Regions from separate parts of the Homo sapiens genome. Here region 2 is linked to region 1. The links come from fine-mapping of genetic effects on gene expression. A gene starts in region 1. The other region holds a variant in brackets. All regions are shown on one strand. Distances are from middle to middle. Region 1 holds the start of CLEC17A (C-type lectin domain containing 17A). Region 2 overlaps CLEC17A (C-type lectin domain containing 17A).

The links. PIP is the estimated chance that this variant, and not a neighbour inherited with it, causes the effect.
Region 2: its variant is the best candidate, but not a certain one, in a credible set for the expression of CLEC17A in whole blood (INTERVAL, PIP 0.72).

Annotation. Positions count from the first base shown.
Region 1 is chr19:14,580,654-14,585,043 of GRCh38, reverse strand. CLEC17A (C-type lectin domain containing 17A) reads right to left here and starts at 1,960. Exons shown (of 14, transcript NM_001204118.2): 1 at 1,841-1,960; 2 at 1,610-1,687. The coding sequence starts at 1,883. It also overlaps the pseudogene RN7SL337P. RefSeq lists enhancers at 1,676-1,845, 4,287-4,336 and a silencer at 2,187-2,330.
Region 2 is chr19:14,602,670-14,607,059 of GRCh38, reverse strand. It overlaps CLEC17A (C-type lectin domain containing 17A), which reads right to left. Exons shown (of 14, transcript NM_001204118.2): 13 at 1-67. It also overlaps a transcript of ADGRE3 not described here. Among named protein-coding and RNA genes, the nearest start is that of SNORA104, 17 kb to the left of the region's middle. RefSeq lists an enhancer at 2,926-3,175. The variant T/AT (reference allele first, on the strand shown) is at 1,958.

The sequences.
Region 1 (4,390 bases):
AAACAGTTGCGTTTCAGGATGGGGATGAAGATGAGGTGGGGTTTGGATTAGAATTGGTGTTGGGATGGGGTGGGATGGGATGGAAAATGGGTTGGGGACAGGGATGGATGTGGGTAAGGTCATGATGTGGTTAGGATGAAGAACAGAGTCCTTGCCAGGTTTGGGAATGGGGAAGGAGTCGAGGCTGGGCTATAGTAGAGAGGGTGATGAAGTTGGATTGGAGAGTGGATGCTGGGCTGCATGTGGATGTGGGGACAGGACTGTGCTTTTGGAGCAGACGTGGCCCTGAAGAAGGGAATGGGATTGGTTGGTCATATATGTAGACCCAGGGCTTGAGGGTCACATTAGGACCATAAATTGGAAATGGGGCAGTGAAACAACACAGCACAGGTCACCTCCTACCTCAGGCAAGTCCCACCATATTTCTGGACCTCCCAGGTGGCCCCACTTTGGACTCAGAGATGGGGGATATACAGCCTCAGCCCTCACAGAATGGCTCCTGTCTAAGGTCACCAGGACCAGGCCATCAGCATATCTCAGGGATTTTCTGTTTTGGGCCTCCGGGATCTCTCATGGCCTCAGGGTCCCTGGTGGCAGTAAACTCAGGAATACCTCAAAAACCTCCGGTTTCATTTTCTCTATTTTTTTAGAAGTGGAGTCGCGCTATGCTGCCCAAGCTGGAGTGCAGCGGCTACTCACAGGAGCAGTCGCACTACTGATCAGCTTGGGGGTGTCGAACTGCTCCGTTTCCAACCTGGAAACCCCTCCTCAGACACCTTAGGCAACCTGGTGGTCCCCTGCTCCCAAAACATCACCATATTGATGCCAAACTTAGTGCAGACGCCCGATCGCCTAGTTCACAATCGCCCAGAACTCCTGGGCTCAAGTGATCCTACTGACTCAGCCTCCCAAGTAGCTGGGACTACAGACATGTGCCACCACACACGGCCCAAACCTCTATTTTTTTTTTTTTTTGGCAGAGATAGGGTCTTGCTATGTTGCCCTGGCTGGTCTCAAATTCCTGTCCTCAAGCGATCCTCCCACCTTGACCTCCCAAAGTATCAAGACTACAGACGCACACCACTGCAGCTGGCCCAAACCTCCACTTTAACAACCACTTATCAGTCTCTTGTTGAACCCTGTGCTATGCCTTGGGTTTGAGATCCAAGTCTAAATAAAACCTGGGCTTTGGGTAGAAAGGTGAGGAGACTGGGAGCCCACAGTCCACTCCCAGTTTCTCAAGCACCAGCTTTTGTAACTCAGAGACTTTGCACCTAACTGTTCTCTCCTGGACTTCTCTTCTTAAGATATGTCTACTCATCCCTCAAGCCCCACCCCAAAGTCCCTTCCTCTATTTGAGCCCTCAGTCCCCCAAGGATTTTGCCAATCTCCTGACCCCTCCTCTCTCACCCTGCTCACCAAGACTGTGCCCAAACCCACCTCCGCCATCAGACTGACAGGTCGTCCTGGGCAGGGTGTGGGTTCCACAGTGCCCGGCATGGGCTGGATACAGAGGAGACTGACTATGTGTCTACAATGCCCAACCAATGCCCACTGGAGACCCCATTCCCTGTATTCCCCCAGGTCACACTCCAAAAAGTCCTCTTACCTGGCTTGGGAGGAAGGTCCTTGTAGGGAGGTGTTGAGTTCTCATAGTCATCATCCTCCTCCTCCTCCTCCATGGTCCCTTCCAGGGGAAAGGCAAGTCAGAGCCCAGCCATTCCCTCCTCCCTCCATCCCTCAAGCCCTGGTCTCTGCCTCAGCTGCCCCATGGTGGGGATTCTGTACCCTGGGTCCTGACCACACCTAGGCCCCAGCCCCAGCCTGGCCGGGGCCTTACCTGGTGGGTCCGGGTACCCAGTGATGGAATACAGATTATGCATGTCTAGCACAGGGAACCTGACAAGTGGCAGCCAGGGCTTGGCAACCTCTGCCCCCTGTCTCTCCGACTCAGGCGTCTGGGGGCTCTCTCAGTTCCCTTTTCCTTTCAAAGTCAAATACATGCAAATTCATTTTGACAGGAAGCCCTCAGACCTCACACGTGCTCACACAAACACACACACACACACACACACACATACACACAGAGCCTTTCTCCCCAGTTTGGATTCACGCACAGAAGGAATAATGACAACTGGCCTGGTGTGGTGGCTCTCGCCTGGAATCCCAGCACTTTTAGAGGCTGAGGTGGATGGATCACTTAAGGCCAGGAGTTCGAGACCAGGTTGGCCAACATGGTGAAACCCAGTCTCTACTAAAAATACAAAAATTAGCCAGGCGCAGTGGCAGGCGCCTGTAATCCCAGCTACTCAGGAGGCTGAGGCAGGAGAATCGCTTGAACCTGGGAGATGGAGGTTGCAGTTAGCCGAGATCACGCCACTGCACTCCAGCCTGAGTGACAGAGTGAGACTCTGTCTCAATAAATAAATAAATTAATTTTTTAAAAAACATTAAATATTAATTAATTAATTAAGGGTCTTGAGATGGATGGTTTATCCTGGATTACCTAGGTGGGCCTTAAATGGCTTTACAGGCCAGGCATCGTGGCTCACGCCTGTAATCCCAGCACTTTGGGAGGCCGAGACAGGCAGATCACGAGGTCAGGAGATCGAGACCATCCTGGCTTACACAGTGAAACTCCGTCTCCACTAAAAATACAAAAAATTAGCTGGGTGTGGTGGCGGGTGCCTGTGGTCCCAGCTACTCGGGAGGCTGAGGGAGGAGAATGGCGTGAACCCAGGAGGTGGAGCTTGCAGTGAGCCGAGATCGCACCACTGCACTCCAGCCTGGGTGACAGAGCGAGACTCCGTCTCAAAAAAAAAAAAAAATGGCATTACAAGGGTCCTCGTAGAAGGGAAACAGAAGGAGATTTGACACAAAAAAAAGGCAATGTGGTCACTAAAGTTATGCTGGCTTTGAAGATGCAAGAAGGAGCCATATGCTAAAGAATGCAACTGCAGAGGCTGGAAACAGCAAGAAAATGGATTCTCACGCTGCAGCCTCTTAAAGAAGCATGGCCCAGCCCATGAACACCTGGGTTTCAGCAGTGAGACTGATGTTGGTCTCCTGACTCCAGAACTATAAAATAATCTGGCCGGGTGCAGTGGCTCACACCTGTAATCCCAACACTTTGGGAGGCCGAGGTGGGTGGATCACGTGAGGTCAGGAGTTTAAGACCAGCTTGGCCAACATGGTGAAATCCCATCTCTACTAAAAATACAAAATTAGCCAGATATGGTGGCGCGCACCTGTAATCCCAGCTACTCAGGAGGCTGAGGCAGGAGAATCGTTTGAACTCGGGAGGTAGAGGTTGCAGTGAGCCGAGATCACATCATTGCACTCCTGCCTGGGCAACAAGAGTGAAACTCCATCTCAAAAAAATAAAATAAAATAATCCATATAATCCATTTCTGGCCAGGCGCGGTGGCTCACGCCTGTAATCCCAACACTTCGGGAGGCTCAGACAGGTGGATCACTTGAGGTCAGGCATTCGAGACCAGCCTGGCCAACATGATGAAATCCCATCTCTACTAAAGTTACAAAAAAAAAAAGAATAGCTGGACATGATAGCGGGCACCTGTAATGCCAGCTACTCGGGTGGCTGCGGCAGAAGAATCGCTTGAACCCGGGAGGCGGAGGCTGCAGTGAGCCAAGATCTCGCCACTGCATTCCAGCCTGGGCAAAAGAGCAGGACTCTATCTCAAAATAGTAACAATAATAATAATTATTATTTCTGTGGTTCCGAGTCACTCAATTTATGAGTAATTTGTTAGAGTCACTATAGGAAACTAATATGTACCCCAAGGGGCAAGACCCCAATTTCCCTTTGTAGAGGTTTTTACTAAAAGTAAGAGGAAATGCAACTCAGATTGGCTTCAACAACAAGGAACATTCATCAGGCCCATGGGGAACATTAGGTTGGGTTTCCATAACTGAGACTCAGAACAAGAGTGTCTCAAACAAAATAGAATGTATTTCTTACCTGACAGGCTCAGTATAAGCAAGTGAGAGCCTCTAACAAATGGAAAAACCTTCCCCCGCACCGCACGTGGGCAATGGGGTAGCCCCGGTCTTAATTGAGGTAGGAGGGCAGCAGCAGATTAACCTCCCTTTCCATTCAAAGCTGACTCTAGGGGCTGGGCTTTCCCCTCTTACATGGCCTGATGTCATAGAGCCTTCCCAGCCTGTAGGAGGGCAAACGTGACTGTACCCATTCCAACCTGTAGGAGGGCAAATGTGACTGTACCCATTCTAGAGATGGGAAAATGGAGACCTGTCTGAGAAGGAAGAAAGAGCCCGTCTGTTCAGCCAACATCTGCTAAGCACACACAAGCTAATCAGGCTCCAGATGGATGGGGGTGGGGAGCAGCTGCAAACAGACATAGGAGGA
Region 2 (4,390 bases), 22 kb before region 1:
CCTGGGCCCTGTCATTCAGCCCCAGCCAGTACACCCGTGGAGAGCCATGGGCCTTGGCCACAAAATTCTGCAAATAAAAATTCCATTCAGCCAGCCATTCCTCTACATGACCCTCAGGGTGAGGACCTGCCCTGTGCCCTGTCCTACATATTTAGGGCTTGGGAACGTCACCTCCCACAACCCGTCCCCGTCCCCATGGTATGCAGAACAGGATCAATGTCTTCCTCCCACTGTAGCATGTGTGGTGGGAATAATCGTGCTACTTTTTCTCATGCAATCTGCGAACTGCTCCGTGCCTCAGTTTCCTCACCTGTAAAATGGGTTCACAGTAGCTACCTCCTGGTAGTGTTGTGAGGATTAACTTTTTTTTTTTTTTTTTTGAGAGGGAGTCTCGCTCTGTCACCCAGGCTGGAGTGCTGTGGTGCGATCTCAGCTCACTGCAGCTTCCACCTCCTGGGTTCAAGCGATTCTCCCGCCTCAACCTCCCGAGTAGCTGGGATTATAGCTACCCGCCACCACGCCCGGCTAATTTTTGTATTTTTTAGTAGAAACGGGCTTTCGCCATGTTGACCAGCCTGATCTCAAACTTCTGACCTCAGTTGATTCACCTGCCTCAGCCTCCCAAAGTGCTGGAATTACAGGCATGAGCTACCACATCCAGCCTAATTTTTTTTTTTTTTTTTTTGAGACAGGGTCTCACTCTGTCAACCAGACTGGAGTGCAGTGGTGTGATCATGGCTCACTGCATGTCCCAAAGGTCACTGTAAGTCTCCCAAAGATCTAGGATTACAGGCATGAGCCACTGTGCAGAGCCTCATACTGTGGACGTCTTAGTAGGTAGCATTATAACATTTAAGTGACATTTTTAGCAATAGTAACTGATTTTTTTTGGTTTCTCTTGCACTTTTGTGCTACTCGGTAGCCTTAATCTGCATCCAAACAACATAAGAATTCATTGTTCCAGGAAAAGAAGGAAGGAAGATGAAAAGTAGGTTTCCTAGCTTTGGTATTTCAAAAGCCCAGGCTTTTGACACGCTGCCTCATATCTGTAATCCCACCACTTTAGCCAAGGAGGGAGGATCGCTTGAGACTAGGAGTTCGAGATTAGTCTGGGCAACATACTGAGACCCCATATCTACAAAAATTTTTAAAAATTAGCCAGACGTGGTGGTGCGTGTCTATAGTCCCAGCTACTCAGGAGGCTGAGGTGGGAGGATCCCTTAAGCCCAGGAGTTCAAGGCTGCAGTGAGCTATGAATGCACCACTGCACTCCAGCCTGGGCAGCAGAGCAAGCCTCTGTCCCGGAAAAAAGTCAAAATCCCAGGTCTTTGGAAGAAAAGAAAGGACTTATGACAGAGATAAAAGATAGGGAAGAAAATATAGTTAGAAGCAACTCCTCTCCAAACAAATTGATGGTGAAAGAAATTAGACTGGTGGTTGCAAGTAGGGGGCAGGGAGGGATTAACTAGAAAAAGGATATGAAAAAACTTTCTAGGGTGGTGGAAAGATTATAAATATTGGTTAGTTTGACAGTTACACAGGTGTACGCATTTGTCAAAGTTCACTGAACATACATCAAAGATCTGTGCATTTTACTATATGCAAATCACATCTAACTCACCCAACTTACCACCAAACCAAGATTCCTTAAAATGTGGGGAGGTGGCCGGGCGCGGTGGCTCATGCCTGTAATCCCAGCACTTTGGGAGGCCAACACAGGTGGATCACCTGAGGTCAGGAGTTCGAGACCAGCTTGGCCAACGTGGCAAAACCCCATCTCTACTAAAAATACAAAAATTAGCCAGGCGTGGTGTCATGCCTGTATTCCCAGCTACTCGGGAGGCTGAGAGAGGAGAATTGCTTGAAACCAGGAGGTGGAGGTTGCAGTGAGCTGAGATCGCGACAGTGCACTCCAGCCTGGGCAACAAAAAGCGAAATCCCGTCTCAAAAAAAAAAA[T/AT]GTGGGGAGGTCAAAGTGCTGGGATTACAGGCGTGAGCCACCATGCCCAGCCCATTTTAGACTTTTTGACTGCCAGGTGATCTCAGTTAGCTAATGAGTTTAGAAAAAGTTATGATTTTGTAGTTATTCTGGCTATTGTTGCTGTTTGGGTGTGAGTAACACTCGCCCCAGCTTTCCACATCCTGGAATTCTTTGTGTTTTAAGAATTTTTTACTATAATCTATTTCATGTGTTCTACTATAGGCAATGCCAATTGATGTTTGCTTTTATTTATTTGCAGTTTTGATTTCTTCTTTAATCCAAAGTTATCTGGTGACTTTAAAAAAAAAATTTTTTTTTTGAGTCAGAGTCTTGCTTTGTCTCCCAGACTGGAATGCAGTGGTGTGATCCCAGCTCACTGCACCCTCCGCCTCGCAGGTTCAAGCGATTTTCCTGCCTCAGCCTCCTGAGTAGCTGGGATTACAGCCACGCGCCACCATGCCCAGCTCATTTTTGTATTTTTAGTAGAAACAGGGTTTCACCATGTTGGCCAGGCTGGTCTCAAACTCCTGACCTCAGGTGATCTGCCCACCTCGGCCTCGCAAAGTGCTGGGATTACAGTCGAGCCACTGCAGCCGGCCGACTTTAAACATTCTTAAGGTGATTGAAATTTTTGTAAAAGAAAATATTTCTGTCGTTATAGCATTGTGGTCAAAGAATGTGGGTAATAAAATTTCTGCTTTGATGGAAAAAAAAATGTGGGGAGGTAAAGTCACCATGGGAAGGAAATAATAAATGTGTAGACATGGCAGGCCCCAGAGAGAAGAATCTGGTATCTCATTTCCGGTGAGCTTTTCAGGTGATGGTAAAAACCCCAGATGGGTTTGGAGACTCTAAAAAGCAGAAGGGACCTGGGGACTATTTCCTGGGTAAAGCCCCAGGGAGGTGTCAGAAAATCAGAGAGCGGAAAGGTCTTCCTGTCCCATCAGACTAGATGGAGGCTTAGAAGGCCTCACAGTGTCTTAGACCCCAGAATGGGATAGGAGGAGCAGAAAGATCTCTTGTGCCCAAGAACAGCAGGAAAAGACCTCCAGGCCCAAAAGGCTTTGCTGATGGAAGAGTGGGATGCCTCAGGGGCAGCCTAGATGGCCCAAAGTCTGAGCCCCAGAAAACCAGAAGACTCTTTAACATTTAGAGAGTCCTTGCTATTTCTAGGCACCAAAATCAGAGCAGTTTAAGAAGAGGGAACTCATATGTCTTGGTCATCACTGGATCCCCAATATGTAGAATAGTCTCCAGCACATAGTAGGTGCTCAGGAAATGTTGGTTGAATTAATGAATTAAGAAGTGAGCTATGGGTTAGGGCACGGTGGCTCACTCCTGTAATCCCGGCACTTCGGGAGGTCAAGGGGAGCAGATCACTTGAGATCATTAGCTAGAGAGCAGCCTGGCCAACATGATGATACCCTAACTCTACTAAAAAAAAAAATACAAAACTTAGCTGGGAGTGGTGGCACGTGACTATAGTCCCAGTTACTTGGGAGGCTAAATCAGGAGGATTGCCTGAACCTGGGAGATGGAGGCTGCAGTGAGCCAAGATCATGCCACTGCACTCCAGCCTGGGCAACAGAGCAAGATCCCATCTCAAAAAAAAAGTGAGCTATACTACTTTGCACAGATTGTCTCATTGGATCCTTATCATGACTCACTGAAGCAAGTATTATCATTATGCCCATTTTGTAGATGAGAAAACTGAGGCACAGAGGGGTTAAGTAACCTTCCCAGGATCATTCAGTCTGTAGATGTCCCAGTAGATACCAGTTTGGAGTAAAGACAGCAAAGACCCGATGTGTGCTCCCTTCCACCTTGACCCCACAAAAGCTGTCCCCATTTAGAAGTAAAATGGGAGAACCCAATTGACTGAGAGTAAATGTACACCATTCTAGCAGAATGAGAACTCAAGAGAGAAACTAAAATGAGTAATTTAAAGGAAATGTAGTTGTATTTCTTGTGAAACTGAGTTAGGGAATATGATTTGCACCTGCCTCATTTACATTACCTAATTTAACTCCTTCAAAAGCCCTGTTTTGGCCAGCCACGGTGGCTTATGCCTGTAATCCCAGTACTTTGGGAGGCCAAGGCAGGTGGATCACCTGAGGTCAGGAGTTCGAGACCAATCTGGCCAACATGGAGAAACCCCATCTCTACCAAAAGTACAAAATTAGCCAGGCATGGTGGTGGGCGCCTGTAATCCCAGCTACTCGGGAGGTTGAGGCGGGAGAATCACTTGAACTCGGGAGGCAGAGGTTGCAGTGAGCCAAGATCATGCTGCTGCACTCCAGCCTGGGCAACACAGCAAGACTCCATCTCAAAAAAAAAAAACTGTTTAACTACTCATACAAATAATGCTATGAAACAGAGGGATAAAAAACAGAAGGGACACGACATACAGGA